Homo sapiens: one gene and its partners. The protein of the gene in region 1 purifies or fractionates together with the protein of each later gene. This does not show direct contact. Each region holds a gene or a part of one and is shown in the gene's direction. Other genes may lie near its edges. The genes, in order: GML, TMEM67, LRIG1 and EIF2A.

Evidence for each region.
Region 2: the proteins of GML (region 1) and TMEM67 purify together in Homo sapiens (affinity purification with mass spectrometry; 2 studies listed by BioGRID and IntAct, with this or other methods). This does not show direct contact.
Region 3: the proteins of GML (region 1) and LRIG1 purify together in Homo sapiens (affinity purification with mass spectrometry; 2 studies listed by BioGRID and IntAct, with this or other methods). This does not show direct contact.
Region 4: the proteins of GML (region 1) and EIF2A purify together in Homo sapiens (affinity purification with mass spectrometry; 2 studies listed by BioGRID and IntAct, with this or other methods). This does not show direct contact.

The regions. Positions count from the first base shown.
Region 1 is NC_000008.11:142,844,787-142,847,384, forward strand, and holds the end of GML (glycosyl-phosphatidylinositol-anchored molecule-like protein precursor), read left to right. Parts: intron 1-1,608; coding exon 1,609-1,904; 3' UTR 1,905-2,065; downstream 2,066-2,598. UniProt on the Homo sapiens protein: May play a role in the apoptotic pathway or cell-cycle regulation induced by p53/TP53 after DNA damage.
Region 2 is NC_000008.11:93,813,890-93,818,664, forward strand, and holds the end of TMEM67 (meckelin isoform 1 precursor), read left to right. Parts: intron 1-1,415; coding exon 1,416-1,558; intron 1,559-2,482; coding exon 2,483-2,563; 3' UTR 2,564-4,232; downstream 4,233-4,775. UniProt on the Homo sapiens protein: Required for ciliary structure and function. Part of the tectonic-like complex which is required for tissue-specific ciliogenesis and may regulate ciliary membrane composition.
Region 3 is NC_000003.12:66,393,022-66,400,068, reverse strand, and holds part of LRIG1 (leucine-rich repeats and immunoglobulin-like domains protein 1 isoform 1 precursor), read left to right. Parts: intron 1-1,027; coding exon 1,028-1,099; intron 1,100-1,885; coding exon 1,886-1,957; intron 1,958-5,865; coding exon 5,866-6,029; intron 6,030-7,047. UniProt on the Homo sapiens protein: Acts as a feedback negative regulator of signaling by receptor tyrosine kinases, through a mechanism that involves enhancement of receptor ubiquitination and accelerated intracellular degradation.
Region 4 is NC_000003.12:150,563,779-150,570,825, forward strand, and holds part of EIF2A (eukaryotic translation initiation factor 2A), read left to right. Parts: intron 1-520; coding exon 521-603; exon of another isoform or gene 604-3,328; intron 3,329-3,914; coding exon 3,915-3,988; intron 3,989-4,123; coding exon 4,124-4,268; intron 4,269-4,397; coding exon 4,398-4,514; intron 4,515-7,047. UniProt on the Homo sapiens protein: Functions in the early steps of protein synthesis of a small number of specific mRNAs. Acts by directing the binding of methionyl-tRNAi to 40S ribosomal subunits.

The DNA.
Region 1 (2,598 bases):
TAACAAGTGTTGTCAGGGTTCTGAACTGTGCACAATCCCTCAGACTATAGATAAGTTCAACCCAGTGTAGAAAACTCTTCGATGTTGTCGGCTAAAGCTGCGTATCAAACACTGAGACTCAGCGCTTCTACTCCTAGGTACATAGCTAATTATAAAAAAGCTTATACAGGCTCACCTTAAGGCAAATACAAGACAAGAGTATTCATTGCAGCACTATTTGGAGTAGACAAAAACCAGAAACAACCTCAATGTCCATCAACAATAAATTGTGGTATGTTCACCAATGTAATGCTATGCAATTTTGAGAATGAACAATATACAACAGTGTGCAACAATAGGGATAAATTTCATAAACACAGATTAGAGCAAAAGAAGCCATCCACAAAAGCAGATGTAATGTATAATTTCATTTCATAAAGTTCAAAACCAAACAGAACTAACCTATAGGTTTAGAAGCCCATACATTTCCTGTCTTTGGCCTGGGCTGCTCACAGCAGTGTCTGCATGGAGGAACAGAGTGAAGAATCCTGGGGCTCTCTTGCAGCTCTGTTTCTGATGCTGCATGCTGAGTACTGGCTGTGGGCACTTGGTGACAATCCATTGAGTTGTGGACTTATGGTCAGGCACATTTCTGTAGAATGGTGAACTCCAATAAACTTTTTAAATGGAAAATAACAGAAAACAAGTGACTGGTTCGTATTCATCATTTGTTTCTGGTGTTATAGAGGAGACAAGACCCAGAGCCATGAATAGATAAATCAATTATGGTAAGTTCCAGAATAAAGTATTTGTGTAAACACTGGATAGACTTCAAGGGGAACAGAAGTAGTGATGAGGGCCAAGGTATTTAACCCTGGGATTCTTGAAGGAGGTGTTAGATGGAGCTTTGGTCAGGTGGCATTGGTCAGCTGAGGCCACTGGACAAGCCCTCTAGTGAAGATTATTGATCACATTAGTCGTGATCACATTAGTTGCGATCGATAACCTTCACCAGAGGGCTTGTCCATCGGATAACACGTACCTAGTTGGAAAGGTGCATCAAGTCTGTACTGGGGAGGAGGTTGGCACCAAGGGTCAAGAGCATTTATATGTTGGTCCAGGAGACTGAAACACCAGGCTGAGGGTCCCAGGAAGGAGTTTACCCTAGAAGGGTCTTGCCAACTGCAGAAAATCTAGTTAAGGCTACATTAATATGGACACCTCTGTTAAAGGTCCATGTGATCTCTAGACCATAAGTGAAACATGATTTCTGGTCTGCATTTAATTTCTCGGGCTCTAGAATTCTTACCATAAGAAATGAACAGGACATTTCATTGCGTGTAGCTACATGACAAGGTACCATGATACCATTTTGGGAGGGCCAGAGGCCTAAAGATGGCAGCTTAGATAGAAAACTATCTCCAGAAGAAGTTGTTCTGGGAGTGATGAGACCCGCTAGTGGACTTGGATGTTCTCTCTTAGTCAAGTGTTCTAGACAATTTTATCACAGCTGGGAGTGTAGAATGTGTACATGGAGCTAATTATGGTTGAATGTGAGGTGTATGTGCCTCAATATTTACAAGCAGAAAATGTGAAATCAATTATTTTCATTGCTGCTTCTTTTTTTAGGCATAAATTCTCGTGAACTACTTGTTTATAAGAACTGTACAAACAACTGCACATTTGTATATGCAGCTGAACAGCCTCCTGAAGCCCCAGGAAAAATCTTCAAAACTAATAGCTTCTACTGGGTTTGTTGTTGTAATAGCATGGTTTGCAATGCAGGAGGACCTACTAATCTTGAAAGGGACATGTTACCCGATGAAGTAACTGAGGAGGAGCTTCCAGAAGGAACTGTGAGGCTGGGGGTATCAAAACTGTTGCTGAGTTTTGCCTCTATCATAGTCAGCAATATATTGCCATGAGGACCCCACCTTGGAGGGTCTGACCATCTTCACCTGTTCCGCAGAGAAATGTTGCTCTCCATTATTCCCTTCTAAGCCAGAGACCCTTATCCACTGCTCCTCTAGGTGGCCCATTTATGGTTTGTTGTAAGAGAAAAATTAAAAAAATATTGTTTAGTGGAGATGTTCATGAGCATTTGTTTGCCTGCATGTACTTGAGCACTCATAGTGGAGTCTCTATTCATATCTGTTCTTCCCTCCCTTGCTCTGTATTCAGGGATTACTTTGTGGTTTTATTATAATCAGTTGCTGTAGCTATTAATTGATTTTGGTAGTTTTGTCTTTGTGCTTCATACTAAAGTTATGAGTGGGTTGCACACTGCAGTTATAGCATTGCAATATTTTGGTTTGTCTGTGTACTTAATTTTACCCTAGGTTTTATACTTTCAGATGTTTTCTTTTTATACGTGAGTGTTTTTTTCTTTCAGTTTGAAGAGCTCCCTTTAGCATTTCTTGTAAGACAGATGTGGTGGTGGTGAATTCTCTCAGCTTTTGTTTGGGAGAGACTTTATTTCTCCTTCATATTTGAAGTTCAGTTTTGCTGGATACATTATTCTTGGATGACAGTTGAGGATTTTTTTTTTCTGTTCAACACTTTCAAAATGTCATACCACTCACTCCTGGCCTGTTGAGTTTCCCTTAAGAATTCTGTTGC
Region 2 (4,775 bases), about 49 Mb from region 1:
TTTTAAGATTATATATGCAAGTGTAATGTGCATATTTTGTAAGGATATAACTTATAGATCAGTGAATTTTCACAAACTGAATATACCCCTGTAACTAGTACCCTTTCAAGAGAGAACATTACCAGCACTCCACATGCCCTCTTGTATAAAGCAGATGTTCCTAACTGGGTGTCCATGGGCTGCTTCAGTGGTTCTCTGGATTTCCCTGAAATTGTTTAATTGTTTGCAAGAGTTGTATATGTATACTTTTTTTTTTTTTTTTTTTTTTGAGACGTAGTATTGCTCTGTTGCCCAGGCTGGAGTGCAGTGGCACGATCTCGGCTCACTGCAAGCTCCGCCTCCCAGGTTCATGCTATTCTCCTGCCTCAGCCTCCTGAGTAGCTGGGACTACAGGCGCCCGCCACCATGCGTGGCTAATTTTTTGTATTTTTAGTGGAGACGGGGTTTCACCGTGTTAGCCAGGATAGTCTTGATCGCCTGACCTCGTGATCTGCCCGCCTCGGCCTCCCAAGTTTATGTATACTTTTTTTTTTTTTTTCCTAATGGAAAGATCTATAGCTTTCATCGGGCTTTTTTTTGTTTTTTTTTAGTGACAGGTTCTTGCTCTGTTGCCCAGGCTAGAGTGCAGTGGTGCAATCATATTAATAGCTCGCTATAACCTCAAACTCCTTGGTTCATGCAGTCCTCCCATCTCAGCTTCCCAAATAGCTAAGACTACAGGTGTGCACCAGCAGACCCACCAGACCTAGCTTTTCTTTCTTTCTTTTTTTTTTTTTTTGTAGAGATGGAGTCTGACTATGTTGCCTAGGCTGGTCTTGAACTCCTGGCCTCAAGCAGTCCTCCTGCCTCAGCCTCCCAAAGTGCTGGAATTACAGGCATGAGCCACTGTGCCCGGCCTCATCATAATCTTTTTAAAAGGGTGTTCACATCCCAATAAGGATGAAACTCGCTGGTGGAGTGAGAAGAGGTCTTAGAGCAAAACCTCAGCGGGACTATTTGAGATAAATTCTTGAACTCTTGAACACTATGTACTTACTCTATGCCTTGCTGGTTTTTTCTCTGATTTACTGTATCTTAGGGAATGTTTGTAAGACTAATTTAGCTTTTAGTTGTATAAAGAAATAGAGAAAGGCTATTTATTAAATGGTCTTTGAAACTTACACTACTAGCAATTACCAACCATTGGTCCTAATGTTAAAACTGCTTTTTAGAAGTTTTTATGAGTTTTTAACTAACCTCTTTTAGATGAACAAATCTTAAAATGTTTGTTTATTTTTGTGTAAGCCATGAAGTATTGTATACAGTATGTTTCTAATGTGCTGTTTTTAAACATCCAGATTTTGTCACCAGAAGTTTATCACAGACTTGTTCCTTTTTTAAATTTCTAATTTATATTTTCTAAATTTTTTTAATAGATGAAGGTTATTCTTTCAGCAGTGTCCTGTATTATGGAAATGAAGCTACTCTTCTTATTTTTGATCTGCTGTTCTTCTGTGTTGTGGATTTGGCTTGCCAAAATTTTATTTTAGCATCCTTCCTTACATATCTACAACAAGAGGTAAACTTTTAAAATTTTTCTACATTTTCCTTCATTTTCTTGAGAGAAATATGTTAGAAGTAGATATTTTCATAGCAGAGAGTAACAATGTCTACTTTTACTACAATTTTGTAAAGGTTTAGAATATGACTAACCCCACCAAAAGAAGGAATAACATTTCAACCAACTGTACTCTGTCCTTTAGGGTCAATGAAATACTGGGGTCTAGTGGAGGGCATAAGTTGCTTGATTATACATGGAAGAGGAATCCTATAGGAAGACACTTAACTGCTAGTCTCCTAGATGCTACAAGTGAACAGTAATTAGAGTCCCATCCACCCTCTCCAGACGTTAAGTAACAAAAAAACAAGCACTGGAGAGCTAGCTCAGGGCTCAGCACCAAAGCTTGCAGCTTTGACACCTCCCCCACCTGTGTGGATAAAAAGCAACTTCATGTATGAGTGTGGACCCTGAAATAGAGATTTCAAGAATTGGCAAATCTGTTCTTGAAATGGTGTTATTATCAACTAAATATTCTCCACTATGTCAAAGAAGTATATATAAGTAAGATGCAATTTATTAGTCCTTGACAGTGATCTAGAATTGTGAAGAAATTCTATCTCTAGTGAGTAGATTCTTTTGATGTTTCCGTAGTTTTAGACTTAGAAGAAAGTTGCCTTTCTATATATTTTAAAGTGTATTTCTGTGAACATGAGAGAATTTGTATTATTAATTCATAAGAATTTACTCTAAATGGGAACATACTATGAAACTATGAAAGAAATTATCATCTTGAAATAATTTTATGTATCACTATGGGATTCAGATACCTGATACATGAAAATAGTTGAGAGAATTAGCTAATTTAATCTAGATATTTTAATCGACGTGCATATTTAATTCTGTTTATATTTCTTTTCATTCTGAATTGTTTTAATTTTCCAGATTTTTAGATATATCCGTAATACAGTAGGACAAAAGAATTTGGCATCCAAAACATTGGTGGATCAAAGATTTTTGATTTAACTTCCTGAATAAATAACTTAAAGACTCAGTATAATCATGGCCAAAAAAAAGTCATGATATCAGGTTAGTTTGCCATATTTTTTAAAACTTATAATGCAGACTATTCTGTTTTTGTTTTTTATTTGCAGAAAGATTTATTTTTATAACTTGGGAATATATAACCTGATATAATAGAAAATACTGTTTTCCCATTGTGTGTAGTATTTAATGCAGTAAATAATAAATTAATACTGACAGTGAGGCCAAAAAAAATCTAAATGTTGCTTTCAGCATAATACTTTTTAATGCTAATTAAAACAGTCCCCATCATTTGTCTCTGTAGATTATTTTATAAACTGAGAGCTGCCTGAATCTTCTCACATTGACAAAGTAATTTGATTCCAAGTTTAAGACTAGTTTTCAGTTTGATATTTTCATGTTTTGTGTGCTTATGGTTAAATAAATGTTGAAAGATATTTTCAAGTTTACTTAGAAATTTTAAATTGTATTATTGCTGATTCAATTTGCATCATTCTAATTGCTCATCCTCTTTGGCAGTGGATTAATTCACTGTTGGGTTAATATGCATCTCATGAAATGATATCTTTTCATTCCTTTGTATACCTGTATTAGGTCAGTATACGCTTTCCATGAAATATATTTGCATTTCTAATATAGTTTACATTTATTAAGTTATAACGTATGACATTTTTCCCAATATCATTTTTTATACATTTTAATTACTTAATGTTTTAAGAGTTCTCTTCCAGAGTTTTGCTTTTCAATTACGTTTAAAGACTGTAAATAACAAACAGTAAGGCTGGGCGCTGTGGCTTACGCCTGTAATCCCAGCACTTTGGAAGGCCAAGGCACGTGGATCACTTTAGGTCAGGAGTTCAAGAACAGCCTGGCCAACATGGAAAACCCCATCTCTACAAAAAATACAAAAATTAGTTGGATGTGGTGGCCTGTAATCCCAGCTATTTGGGAGGCTGAGGCATGAGAATAGCTTGAAACCAGGAGGTGGAGGCTGTAGTGAGCCAGATAGCACCACTGCACTCCAGCCAGGATGACAGAGCAAGACCCTGTCTCAGAAAAAACAAAAACAAAACACTGTAAATGTATCATGTTTCTCACTGCTTTCTATGTTAATGCTGTGTAAATACTTAAAATGGAATACTGTATAAATATTATTTATATTTTCTCAGATGAAAATATATACTAAAACATTTGGTATTTCTGTTTTCTGTTTCATTAATGTATATCTGATGGAGTACCATTTAGGAATATAACATTATTGGGGCAGAGGTCCCAGCCATTGCCAAAGTTGAATCTTTTACATTTCCCTGAATCTTGAGGATGACTGAAAAGGAAGTCTTTGAAACTGCAGTTTCTGAAGGATCACAGTACAGGAATGCCTTTATAAAAGCTGCAGAGATAAATACATGTACTTATATGGCATGGATATTTAAAACCACTCACTCAGAAGCATATGAAAGAAATTCAACCATCATTCAACATAGAAGAAGTTAATTTTAGTGCAAAAGTTTTTAAGTATTAAATTTCACAATAAAGGATCAATTGGCTTACTTGCTGATAAATTAAAACAGAAAACATTTAAAATCATTCTAAATTTTGTATGATATTTTTATTTTGGCTAGGTGCATAAAAATGTGTTCAGATTTTCATACACTGTCGACTCCTTTGTTCACATTGTCACAATTTACATTTCCTGATCATGTGCATAATTATTCACTAGATTCATTACCCTTTGTCTATTTCTGTAGTACCCAATCACTATACTTTGACTCTTATATCCCTGATTTTACTGATTTTCTAGAAACATTTGATTTCTCTTCATTTCATAATGAAACAAAACCTAGAGAGGTTCTTTATAAGCTGTTGTGTACTTTGGATGCTCCTTAGAAACATACAGGCCCCTAAAATACTTCTGTAGACCAGTGCCTCTGTTATGGGAGATTTGTAAATGCTTCCTTCTCTGGCATTGCTGTCCTAACTGCCTTTTCAGAAGGCTTTGCTGATGACCTACATTGAGGAACATTCAAAATGATCATTAACTCAGCACTTACAAGCATGAAGCATGTGTTTTTTTTGTAAATATTGACAAATATAAGCTGAGGGGAAATAACTGTAAGTCAAGGAGCAGTGAGGAGTGTGGCTTAATGGAAAGTGCTCCAAATTTAGCAAAAGAAGCCCTGGATTCAAATTAGAA
Region 3 (7,047 bases), on another chromosome or scaffold:
CACTAGCGATAACGTTGGAGGTTGGCCCACTGACATCATGTAACGTCTGGGGTCTGGCTTAAGAGCCAAAGCACTGGGGCATCTCCTGCAGGCCCTGAGGGGTCCCTCTCGTAGGCAGGGACACAGCTCACCATGGCTGTGTGCTGGCTGCCAGGACATCTCAGGTGCAGACAGCTGTGGAGCCAGCTTGATGGATGCCTATTTTACTGTCCTCTTCTTGCCTCTTTTGGGAAGCTTTATTCCCAGAATGCACTTTTCAGAAGTGGGTGGCAGTTTGGGGGTTTTTGTTTGTTTTTTGTTTGAGACAACATCCCGCTATGTTGCCCAGGCTGGAGTGCAGTGGCGCAATCATGGCTCACTGCAGCCTCCACCTCCTGGGCTCAAGCAATCCTCCCACCTCAGCCTTCTAAGTAGCTACGACTACTGGTGCGTGTCTCCATGCCCGGATAATTTTTTAGTTTTTGTAGAGACAAGGTTGCCCTATGTTGTCCAGGTCTCAAACTCTTGGGCTCAAGTGATCCTCCTGCCTCAGCCTCCCAAAGTGCTGGGATTACAGGTGTGAGCCACCATGCCCAGTCATGGTCAGCAGTTTTAATTCCGAAGATTTTTCTTTCCTTTTTTGACTCAGCTTCCTCTCACTGAAACCATAATCAGTCTCATCTCTCCATCACTAAACTTCACCACCCAAGGGTTGGTGGTCCTTGGAGAGAGACTGGGCCAGACAAGGTGATTTCTGCCTAACACTGGGAGGGGCCTTTTTTAGGCCAGACGGCACATGCAATTCCAGCCTATCATCACTATTAAATTCTAATAAAGATAAAAGTATTTCATTTCAGAAAGGGGAAGGCCTGCGTGCCTCAAACCCGTAATCTCAGCGCAGGTCAGCTTTCCACCTGCCCCTCACTGGACAGACTTATCAGGTAGCACTACCTTAATTGTGTGTTTTCTTTTTCTTTTTCTTTCTCTCAACCCTTCCTGTTTCGCTTTCCTTCCCTGGCCTTAATTTCTGGATGTTTGGAAACTACAGGACTCTGTTTGGAAACAAGATCAAGTCTGTGGCTAAGAGAGCATTCTCGGGGCTGGAAGGCCTGGAGCACCTGTGAGTATCTCACCAGCCCTGCCCTGAGGCACAGCCTGCTGAATGCGGCTGCCGGGGAGTTCTGCTAGCAATTTAATCGCATCTTTGTAAACTGAGAAACAGGCTATTTGGAAACACCAGCTGCTTCCTTCTCATTATGTCAGCTTCAGCTTTGGCCTTTATGTTGCCTATGCCAGGAACAGTTACAGAACATATGGCCAGTGGATGTGCTCCCAGTTAATTCAGTTGGTATTTGGATAAATACCCTCCCCCCTCCTGCTGCGCAGCCTAACCCCTGCACTGGCTCCTTCATGGACCCCTGGCCTCATTGCCTCTTCCACCAACGCGCTTCCTCCTGGCCAAGCCTGTTGCCTCCATTAAAGCAGCTTAACAATGCAGAGTAGGTGCTGGGCTGAACCAGTTTGGTGTGGTTGCTTCTGAGACCCTGGGAGGAAGGGAACAGAGCCACCCGAGACAGTCATGCTGTTGCCATCTGGGGAGGATGCCTCATGTATGTGATTCTTAGTTTGTTTCCTCTTTGAATCAAGTTTGACTCTAACTCTGTTGGGAAAGGTTTTGCCTTGCTGAGCAGGCCTCAGCCCAGCTTTGATGGTGCCCTAAGGCTGGCTTGGCTCCTGAGTCATTCCATGGGCTTGTGTTGCGATTTGGGAAACAACAGCCACTTATAGTAGTTAGGACACAGGTCTGGCTAGTCCCTGTGGGTCATCTGTGAAACCAGGACTGTCCTGAAAACCCCTCAGGTGTACCTAGGGTTTCTTTGCATAAGTAATGTATGTTCTGTTTCAGGAACCTTGGAGGGAATGCGATCAGATCTGTCCAGTTTGATGCCTTTGTGAAGATGAAGAATCTTAAAGAGCTGTAAGTATCTGGATTCCCTGGGTCTGATTAATGGTAGTGGAGACTTTCAGAGTAAGAAACTTCTGCAATTGCATTATGCTCACTTGTTAAAAGTTCACATGGTACATATTTTGGATTTTGTGGGCCACAGAGTCTCTGTCATGACTACTTGATTGCATCATTGCAGCAGAAAGCAGCCATAGACATTACATAAGCAGGTGGGTGTGGCTATGTGCCCATAAAGTCACATTGACAGAAGCAGGCAGTCGGGCCGCAGGCTGAAGCTTGCTAACCACTATTCTAGGCAATGTGAAATATACTCTCCTCTATAAAGTGGATAATCACCCCTTCAATTATGTCAGGGCCAAGTTTTCATCTTTTGGGCTTGCTTACGATAAAGGCCTGTGTTGAGAGGGTCTACTTCAGAGCCTGGTGGGCTGTGAGCAAGGCAGAGCTCTGGAGGGGATGGGATGCTTAGGGGTGCAGTGGTGTCTGCCCATACCATTTCCAAGCTTTCTGGGCACGGTTCACAGGTGGTGGTGCTGCCACTGTGGACTTGGACTGTGGGCTCTTGGGTGACAAGGTTGGAAAAGCTTCCCTGTATCCTACTCTGGCAGGGGAGCTAGTCTGGGTCCTCAGGTGTAACACCCAAGTTTTCCTTTCTGGTTTTTTTTTTTTTTTTTTAGCTAGACATGAATCTGATTCTACAGCCAGTAAGTTCTAGCCATGATATCAGTTCCCTGAAGGGGTAACTTTTGGTTCCTAGAAGTGCTGACAGAATGGCAGATGCCACAGGACAGTCATCTTTGTGCCCTGACCTCATCCCCATTCCCCGAGGCCACTCTTGATGAACCCTCAGTTGGGGCAGGGAGGCTGGGACTGGGGAAATGAGGTGCATTCCCCATAGCTGGGAACTGAAGCGGGCCGGGTGACACCAGACTGAGTGAGGAGGGAAGGTGGCCTGGGCACTTGCCCTGTGATGTTCAGCATGCTGTGAGCCTCAGGCCTGCTGAATAGATACCGTCCTTGCAAGGGTTGGATCTTGGAGCGGGTGTCTGTGACGGGTTCATGGAGCTCAGGGCTCTGCAGACAGCTGCTCCGTGCCCAGGGCCTTCCCTCTTCCAGCCTCAGCAGCTCTGCCTCCATCTGTCGGGTGAGACGGAACATACAGAAAGGATTCCATGGCTCTCCTTCCAGAGCAGGGGAGGAGATGATTCCAGACCACCGTGGAAGGGAAGGCTGGACTCAGAGGTGGACTCGCAGTAAAGCAAGTGGAATGAAACATTGGTTGTAGAAGACAAGCGGTGGGGCACAGGAGCATTCACTGTGGAATTCTTTCACCTTTTCTGTCTTTGAAACTTTCAGATATGATGTCAGGACTGAAAAATACCTGATTCAATTTAAACGGGAAGAAGGTATTTTGAGAGAAGGAGGGAGGAGGATAAGATTTTCCTTGGGAAGTTGGGAGGAACTGGACCCTTCCAGAAGCTTGGACCTCCAGCGTGCTTCTGCATGGTTCTGGAGGCTCAGCCTCGGTCTCCTGCCTGGGTTTCCCATCGTTGCTGCATATACCTCGCTGGAGCCGGCCCTGTGCCCAGTCCTCAGATGAGAGAAATGGTTAATTCCACTTGGTCGTCTTTTTCTCCATCAGATCAAGTCAGGTTGTACTGTGCACTTAGTCATCCTCTGGGTAAATTTCCACAAGTGATGATTAGAAACACACTTTGAGTTGGAATCGTGAAAATGCACCATGTGAGCCAGCAAAGCCCTGGGATGGCAGCAGAAGGCAGTAGAGCCGATGGCGCTGTGCTCTCCACGGGTGGAAGAAGGGCGGCAGGAGCCTGCAGAGCCTAGGGGTTGGAATCCTCGCTACTGCCTGGCCCCAGGCCCTCCCCATGTATCCTCTCAGTCCTAACTTGCTGTTTAGGAACATGCTGTCTCCACCCTGAGTACCCACTGTCTTCCTGGAGTCTGGCCTCCTGTCTGAGGTGGGTTTCATGGTGGAAGAAGTAGGAAATCCTCAAAGGCGTTAGCCCCACACGTCCAGGGCGTGTGTAGGATGAGGCTTAGCCCTTTCTACATGTGTCTGATCAAAGATAAATGTCAAATTTGTTTTCCCGTTTGTTCCTGTGGTTCAAATGGAATATGTCCTTGTGTCCTGCACAAATGCTTAACGTCGCACAGGGATGGCCCAGCCTTCTCTCCTAGGCTTTCGTGAACAGTGCCCAGGCTGTTCTGCCTGACTGCACGGAAGTGCCCTCTTGCTGGGGAGCTGGAGGTGCTTCTGACAGCGGAGAGTTCTCCATCCAGGCTGAGTTCCCCCCATGCCTGGCGCAGCCAGCCCTGACCCCCATGCAGGGTGCACTCCTGGGAGCTGCCCTCCCCAAACACTGCATGGGAATTGACCATTTCCTCAGGGATGGCCGTTACAGCCCTTCCGCCACCTGCAGTGACTCCACAGTAGGACAGCCCTCCAGATGGCTCTCAGCAGAACGCTACCTGCCCGTGAAATAAAAATGCAAACTCTCATGCTGATTTTAAGATCTAATATGGGCCAGCATCCCAGTTATAATGGCCTTGAGATAAGTTATTTCTGTTTTTGGAAAAGCACTTTCCAAAATTATAATTATTTTAATAAGATGCCCAACTCATCTAGGGGTGATGGGGAACATGAGGAAGAGTGGATTTTACTTAATTTAGCCTTGGGTCATCTGCTTACACTTCATTCTTCCTTGCTGTGACAGTTTCTCTGCTCATTAGAAATCTGGAGAGAAACAGAAGAAAATGGAAGGCCAGTCCATTTGGTTGCTTTGTTGATGTCTGAGGACAGTGGTGGGTGGAGAAGGCAGCCAAAGTCGTGCTCTTGGCCTGCATGATGTTTTTGGAATTTCTGCGCATACCTGTGCCTCCTGTTTGTCACCATGTACCAGAGACAGTGTATTGCAGGGAAGCCTGTGTGCTCTCTTTCCCAGTCTTCCCTTATCGTGGGCCAGCCATCATTCTTTAGCTCACAGCTCTGAGGTCTTCCAGGAACAAGGCAGCTAGACTCTTGGTTGACTTATCTTCAAGTGACTCCTCAGGAAGGAATGTCCGCTGAGATGGCGATTCCGATTTCTGTTTAAAAAGCTTATCCTTAGTTGCTGAGAAATGAAAAAGAAAATATTCTCTGTTTTGGTTGGAGCCCCACAAAGCTAAAGTTGTGCATTCTCATGCTCCCTGGGCAGTGGCAATTAACTAACAAGCACTATTTAGGGAGCAGAGCCGAATTCTGCCGGCCCCCTGAAGAATACTGGTGCAAAGATCAAGGCACAAACAAGAGGGTGGCACAGTGACGGGGCTTATTACATTTGGAAGTAAGAAAACATGCAGCTTTGCCAAATGGAAAAGGAACAGCCATGAGGCAAAAGAGCCCTCCTCGGAACTTGTTGCAGAATTTGGATCAAAGTCTCAGGCCGAGTTTGGAAGCTCCAAGTAGTTTATCAGGAAAGTGGGAAAAACCAGAGGGGGGATGGTGGCAGCATAGCACTGTTGGATGTATCAGAGGTCAGGAGAGGTCAGAAGGCAGCCCAGGGTCACACAGGAACAGTGTCTGTCCCAGAACATGGCATGGATAAGCTCCACGTTGCTGCTGCTCCAGTTGCGGTCCTTGGGTCAGCAGCCCCAGCATGATACGTGAACTTGTTAGCAGAGTCGTGGGTTCCACTCCTGACCCACCCAATCAGCAACTGCATTTTTTCAAAATCTCCAGGTGGGTTATATGCACTGCCCTGGGAAATTGGAGAGGAAGTGTGAGAAAAACCATTTCCCCCTTCCAGCTTGCTGATGTTCACTTGAGAAGCTGATTGGAGGCGACTGATCATTGTGTGTGTGAAGGGAGTGTCCCTCCTTTGCGGCTGCACCTGAAGCATCCACTGTTGTGTTTCTTTCAGCCATATCAGCAGCGACAGCTTCCTGTGTGACTGCCAGCTGAAGTGGCTGCCCCCGTGGCTAATTGGCAGGATGCTGCAGGCCTTTGTGACAGCCACCTGTGCCCACCCAGAATCACTGAAGGGTCAGAGCATTTTCTCTGTGCCACCAGAGAGTTTCGTGTGCGGTAAGACTGTCTTTGTAACTTTTTCTCTCCTTCATGAAGGACAAGGAAGCCAGGAGGTACTCTTCATTATGGGAGTAATTCCTGTGATCAGAGTAAACCCCAGCCCGTGGTTACAGATCAGCTGCTGGATGCAATTTATTTCTTGCTGAAACCACACACAGTATTTACCGTAGAGTTGCCTCATTATGTGGTTCTTGGAGGACATGCATTTAATCAGAAGGGAGTATAAGTTGGTTCAGTTACAAATCAGAATAATCAGTTACAGGAAGATAGTTCTGTTGTTTCAGAAGGGCTCTGGTGCCCGGGTTTAGCTGCGAATGTACTCCGCGTACGAGGCTGGCGTTTTAATGTGTGTTTCTTTCCGACCCCAAGAATGAAAGGTTAAATACAGGAAGAACAAGTCTCAGGAGAACAGTTGCTGTAGTAAAAATAATTCCTTGATGTTGACTTGTACTCTTGCTGTTTCTCCAAACCACTGAAATCTGCACTTGCAGCTTTACATTCTTTTTGCCTTCTGATTCCTGGAGCGTAGCTCTTGCCATCTTTTTGACTGGGAGTCGGGATCCAAGTTTGGTTGCAGAGAGCACAGAAAATGCTGAACAGCTGAAAACACACACGCAGGCTAGCTCAGACAGGACTGACACAGGCTCACGGTCAGGAAGACATGGTCAAAAAATGAGATGAATTTTGAGTTTTTCCTGTTTGCTTGCTCTAAGCAGGAGCAAGAGTGGGATTCCCAGGCCTGACTGGAACTGCTGGGCAGGTGTTAAGTCCCTCCTGCCTTTTGTGCTCACTGGTCTCCCTTGAGCCTTGAGATCCCTGCTGTGAGGATCCTAACCAGGAACTCACCCATCCATATGGCAACCCTTGTGGGCCACTTCTGTCTCCTACTTTCTGGCCATAGCAATAGCCATTGTGCCTGCTGGAGTAGCCAGTGTGCCTGCTGGAGGCAAGATGTGTGTGCCCTCTCCATGCATCCACCCCTACCTTCACCATCACCACTTTTGAGAACAGGCCT
Region 4 (7,047 bases), on another chromosome or scaffold:
CTTCTTTCCTTTAGTATTAAGTGGAAAGGAACAATGTTTTCTTTTTTTTGTTTGTTTGAGAGGGAGTCTCGCTCTGTCACCCAGGCTGGAGTGCAATGGCCTGATCTTGGCTCACGGCAACCTCTGCCTTCTAGGTTCAAGCAATTTCACCTGCCTCAGCCTCCCAAGTAGCTGGGACTACAGGCACGTGCCACCATGCCTGGCTAATTTTTGTATTTTTAGTAGAGATGGGGTTTCACCATGTTGGCCAGGCTGGTCTTGAACTCCTGACCTCAGGTGATCCACCTGCCTTGGCCTCCCAAAGTGCTGGGATTGCAGGTGTGAGCCACCGCACCTGGCCTTTTCTATTAACATATATTGACTAAAACTATTAGTAACTGACTTAATATCATATTTATAAGTGTTTATAAGTGTTTTTCCTTAAATGGTAACCAATATCATAAATTACTTTAACATGTTAATGTGATGTTACATTCTGTCTGAATATTTTTTATACTTTTTTTTTTTTTCATTGACATAGGTGTCCATCCTGGTCAGAAGATGAAACTCTTTGTGCCCGCAATGTTAACAATGAAGTTCACTTCTTTGAAAACAACAATTTTAGTATGGAAAGATTTATGACATAATTTTATTACTTACTGTAATCGTATACAGTTTCCATTAACTTTTATGACATCATAGGGTTTTCCTAAATACTGTTAATCTATTAATCAATAATTACTCTTACATACATTTGCATAATTCTTTATAAGTCTGAATTCAGTGAAAATCTGTAACACAAAGGTTTTCTTTTACAATAACTTTTTATTATCTGGTAATTGCTATTAAGACATTTGAATATCTTTTCCTGAATTTAATTGCTATTGAAATTCTGTGACACAAATTTTTTAGATATTTTATCGTGTAGAATTTTAAACTTCAGACACCTAGTTCTAGTAACCATCAGCTTGTGGCCAATCTTATCTCATCCATACATCTCTCCAGCTACCATCTCTTACTAAGTGAAAGCAAATCCCAGATATGGTTATACTTTTATATACTTGTTAAATATGTAATTGTAAATATTTCAGAGTAGATTTCTGAAGATTGGGGCCTTTCATTTTTTAAACTTAGCCACAAAACCATTATCACAAATTATTAAATATGTGTTCAAATTTCTACTAATTGCAAATGTTACAATTTTTTTTAAAACTCGGGATCCAAATAAGGTACTGCACATTGTGGTTGATTGATATATCTTTTATGTTTCTTTTGGTCCTATAAGTTCCCACTCTATCTGTTATTTTATTCTTCATAATTTATTGTTTAAGAAACAAGGTTATTTGTCTTTCACGTTTTCCCATAGTTTGAATTTTGCTTTTGTATCCCATGGTATAATTTAACATGTTCATCTGTCCCCTATAAATTGCAAGTTGGCTCTAGAGTTTCAGCTTCAGGTTCTTTTTTAGGTGAGTAAGGGTAAGACTACATTATAAGGTGATGTTCACTTCTTTTATCAAGAAGCACATAATGTCTGGTTGTCTTTAATTTTGTAGGCTTAGCTGACATTAATGTTTCATGCCTGGATGCATTATTTCATCAGTGGTTGCAAATTGTTGATACTCTGGTTTTTTCTCCCTCACTTATTTTTCAGCTGTACTGCTTCTATAAAGAAAAATTTCCCCTTCTACTATTTGGTTACCTAGTGCTGCATTTATATAGAAAAGGCGGGATAAATATTCTTGCTCTTATCAGTTTTAATATAATGTATTCCACCTCTAGCAACCTTCATTGTAACCAATTAGCTTTTTCCCCATTCTTGTTTTTCGAGAGTGGGCCTCATTCTTTTGTCCAAGCTGAGTGCAATCATGGCTCACTGCAATCTCGACTTCCTGGGCTCAAGCAATTCTCCTGCCTCAGCCTCCCAAGTAGCTGGGACTACAGGCTTGCACCACCATGCCCGGCTAATTTTTGATTATTTGTAGAGACAGGATCTCATTATGTTGCCCAGGCTGTTTTTTAGTTCCATTCTTTTTTTTTTTTTTTTTTTTTTTTGAGATGGAGTTTCGCTGTTGTTGCCCGGGCTGGAGTGCAATGGTGCGATCTCGGCTTACCGCAACCTCTGCCTCCCAGGTTCAAGCGATTCTCCTGCCTCAGCCTCCTGAGTAGCTGAGATTACAGGCATGTGCCAACATGCCCGGCCAATTTTGTATTTTTAGTAGAGATGGGGTTTCGCCATGTTGGTCAGGCTGGTCTCGAGCTCCCGACCTCAGGTGATCCACCTGCCTCACCCTCCCAAAGTGCTGGCATTACAGGCGTGAGCCACCACGCCTGGCCTTTTTAGTCCCATTCTTAATGAGCTGTGGATTTAAAAGGTATGTGTTTCAGTCCATTGTAGTTATTTTTCTTATTGATGCTCAAATTGTCTCATCTTTGATCAATTAATCCTTAGTGACTTCTTTGCTATATGGTAAGACAAGTCATTCTAGGATTAATTTGTACATTTCTAACCATTACACCTAGAACTGGCTAATTTTTCAGGAAACCCTGTCGCCTTTTTGGTGTGCTACTTTTGAATAGCTATTGATCTCTGAAATTGAACAAAGAAAAAGTATTAGCTCTTGATCTCATTGAAGGAAACATTAAAAGGTAATAGGGTTTCTTGAAAAATTGGCTGAGTCTAGCAAAAAAAAAGGTATTTAGGTTCTAGAGATTCTTATTTGCTGTTGCATTGATCATTGTTTCTAGGCCTTTTTTTTCTATTTAAAAGATGTAACAATCATAATTTTATTTAAATTAAAGTTTTATACGTATAGTTTTATTTAAATTGAAGACTACAAGGTTTTTATTTAACTTCTATCTTATTTGTATTGCCTTCTGTCACCACCAAGAATCTTGTTACTCTGGAATACCAGGGATGATAATTTGAGAATATCACATTCACATAAGTATTCATTTGGTTTGTTCCACATTATCCACAAGGTATTCTTACAATCTTAATACCAAAAAGTAACACTGTTACTGAAAATAATTTTTTAAAAAGGGTTTGCAGTTCTTTTGTCTTTAGAGCATCCCATTACTGATTGTACAGTTTTGAGTATATCATAGTTAGAATAGGAATTGGTAACTTTGTTCACACGTACCAAAGATGGCATGTAGGCTGATTTTGAGCAGCATCCAATCAGTATAGTTATGCATTTTATTTTCCTGTGTTTGAGGCGCACTGTCACCTCACTGTTTCTGGGTTAGCTTGCTTTCTTGTCTTATTCTCCTCTTTGTGAGCATGTCAAATGAAGAGGGATCACCACTTTGACAGTTTGGTGTGCTGCTTTTGAAAAGCCATTGATCTCTGAAATTGAACAAAGAAAGTATATTAGCTCTTGATCTAATTAACTAGAGTGGCAGTTTTATTAATAATAGCATGGCTCAGACTGCCTGGAATAGAGTAAGCTCTTAATATCAGCCATTGTTACTGTGGTTGTGATCATCATTATCATGCATCTGTTTATCACATTAAGTTACAGAATTTCCATATCCACATTCTGCAGTAGCAGGCCAAGGTTGATCTTTTCCTTCTAATAGGCTCTAAGACCACTTTATTTCAGCGATTGAAGAGAGGATAACTGACATTTATCAAATACCTACCATGTGCCTGGCACTCTTCTCTTAAAACCAATTACTGAGAGTTGGGTGGTATAATCCCATTACTTGCCTAAGCTCACACTGCAAGTAAATGACTGAGTAGAAATTGAAGCCTACATTTGTCTTGCTCCTACCCCATGCTTTTTCCACTGTGTTACTGTATCTCACCAGGAGGAGACTACAGTGAGTAGTATTGGTGTGTAGTTATAGTGATCTTTGATAATGTATTCAGAGTTTAACATGTTCCTTTTAGGTTCTCTCATCAATCTGATTTAATTTACTCTTTTTTTTAGACACAATTGCAAATAAATTGCATTTGCAAAAAATTAATGATTTTGTATTATCACCTGGACCCCAACCATACAAGGTAATTGCTGTTTTTGTTTATGTGTAATATTATGTGTTTAAACCTTTTCCTAGTTTTTTGTGATTGTAAAAACATGTCCATCTCAGTTTTTATTCTTCAAAAAATTAAGTAATGATTTATGTCTATGTATCTTAGGTGGCTGTCTATGTTCCAGGAAGTAAAGGTGCACCTTCATTTGTTAGATTATATCAGTACCCCAACTTTGCTGGACCTCATGCAGCTTTAGCTAATAAAAGTTTCTTTAAGGCAGATAAAGTTACAATGCTGTGGAATAAAAAAGGTATGTTAAGTATATTTTATCCCTCCCTTTGTTTATCAGTTGTTAATTTAGGCTATATTCCTATGTGTATAACAGAAGAATCAATGCCCATTTGTGTTTTAAATCTAATTAAAGTTTTTACTGTTATAGCTACTGCTGTGTTGGTAATAGCTAGCACAGATGTTGACAAGACAGGAGCTTCCTACTATGGAGAACAAACTCTACACTACATTGCAACAAATGGAGAAAGTGCTGTAGTGCAATTACGTGAGTATTCCAGCAGTCTTCCTTTGATTAGAAACAATGATAGTAAAAAATACTATGCCATAAAGATGATATAATCTAAATTCTTGATCAAAAGATAGAATTCATATGCCTTAATAACCTTTAAGATAAAATTTTTCTTAATTAAGAAACTTAAAAATCATCCTCCAACATACCTTATTTTGGCAGAATACAATTAGTTATTTGAGTTACGCCATCGTTTTAGAAGTGAACTTCCTGAGTAAGGTAATTCCATTGTAGTAGCTCTTTTGGAACTTACTTAGCTAATTATGACGGCAAATTGCTTAATACTGTCTTTAGAATTGTTAGTAATATGCAAGAGGCCAGGCATGGTGGCTCGTGCCAGTAATTCCAACACATTTTGGGAGTCTGAGATGGGAGGATCATTTGAACTCAGGAGTTCAAGACCAGCCTGATCAACATAGTGAGACCCTACCTCTACAAAAAATAGAAAAAGTTAGCCAGGCATGGTGGCGTATGCCTGTAGTCCCAGCTCCTCAGGAGACTGAGGCAGGAGGATCACTTGAGCCCAGAAGTTCAAGGCTGCAGTGAGCTATGATCATGTCACTGTACTTCAGCCTGGGTGAAAGAGCGAGACCCTGTCTCAAAATAATAATATCCAAGAATGTTACCACTTCATCTGTTGTTTTAATGAACTAAAACTTTAAAATAATAGTTTTAAAATACTGATAGCGTCCTAATTTTCTCATTTTGAATTGAACATGTGTAAGTAGGGTAATCTATGTTTTAAAAAAACTATTTCCATTGAAGTCAGAGAAAAAACAAGGATGGCTCCCCTTTTCACTTTATTTTAATAACATTCTGAAATACCTAGTCACTATAATCAGCAGAAGTAAAATATATACAGTTTTGAAAGAAAACAAAATCATCTCTGCTCATGTAGATGAAGTCACACTATAACAGCTACTTTAAAAAAATGAAAGATTCCATATATAGCAAAAATAATAAGAACAAATATATAGGGCCAATGAGAAGAAAACTTTAAAACTCTTCAGAGAGACAAACTATGACCTTTACTAAGAAGAATTATTTTTATAAAGATGTCATTTCTCTCTTGTCAGTCTAAAACTAAATTTAAATGCTAACTGATTTTTTTTTTTTAACTAAATAAACTGGCTGTAAGGTTGGTGTTGAAAAATGAACACACAAGAATATTTTGGAAACTTGTGTAAAAGAAGAGCAGGGCAGGGGAAGTTATCTGGAGTTCTGACACTACCAGATATTAAAATGTACCCAGCACTTTGGGAGGTTGAGGCGGGCAGATCATGAGGTCAGGAGATCAAGACCATCCTGGCTAACATGGTGAAACCCCATCTTTACTAAAAATACAAAAATTAGTTGGGTGTGGTGGTACATGCCTGTAATCCTAGCTACTCGGGAGGCTGAGGCATGAGAATTGCTTGAACCCAGGAGTGGGAGGTTGCAATGAGCCAAGATCGTGCCACCGCACTCCAGCCCGCTGACAGGGTGAGACTCTGTCACAAAAAAAAAAAAAGTAAGCCAATTGTAATTAAGACAGTTTGGTTGTGGTATATGGATATACTGGTAAAACTGATAAATCAGTGGAAGAGAACAGAGTCCAGAAGTAGATCCATACTTTTGTAGACATTAATATATAATAAAGTCAGCATTTGAATCAATGGAGGAGAAAATATTGATCATTTAATATGTGGTTTGGGATAACTGGCTAGCCATTCGAAACAAAAGGTTATTATCTTCTTCACAAAATAAATTCTGGTTGGGTCAAAAACTTATACATAAGACTGCAGAGGAATTAGAAGAATATATGGGAGAATTTTTTTTCTAATCTTAAGAGTAGAAAAAGACTTTTTAAACAAGATAGAAGTACTAAGGGGAAAAAATAATGAATTTGACTAGAGAAGAATAATGGATTATTACAATGAGAGAAGAAAAGAGTCCATAAATTAAGCAAAATGAACAAAAAGTTGGGGAAAATATGTTTTTTAAATAGTCAAGTGATAAGTATGAGGAAGGTCAAATTTTCTTAATATATCAAGTAAGCCAAGTAAAAGACCAATAATTGGAGAAAAATAAAATAGGCATAGGATAGTAAAAATTAGTCCTCAGAGCCGGTGCAGTGGCTCATGCATATAATCCCAACTATCTAGGAGGCTGAGGTGGGAGGATTGTATGAGCCGAGAAATTTGAGGCTGCAGCAAGCTAAGATCCTACGGCTGTACTGCAGTCTTGGTGACAAAATGAGACCATCTCTTTAAAAAAAAAAAGAAGAAGAAAAAAAATCAGCCCATAGAAAAAGAAATAAAATTACTTACAGTAAAAGATGCTTAACTTATAATTTAAAAAATACAAATGAAAACAAGATAGACATTTTCACTTAGTAGGCTGATGAAGATAAAAATATGAAACTACACAGTATAGTTGAAGGATAGTGAGGGGGAAGCCTGCATCATCAAAAACTGCTGACAGAGGCTGGGCACGGTGGCTCATGCCTGTAATCAATCCCAGCACTTTG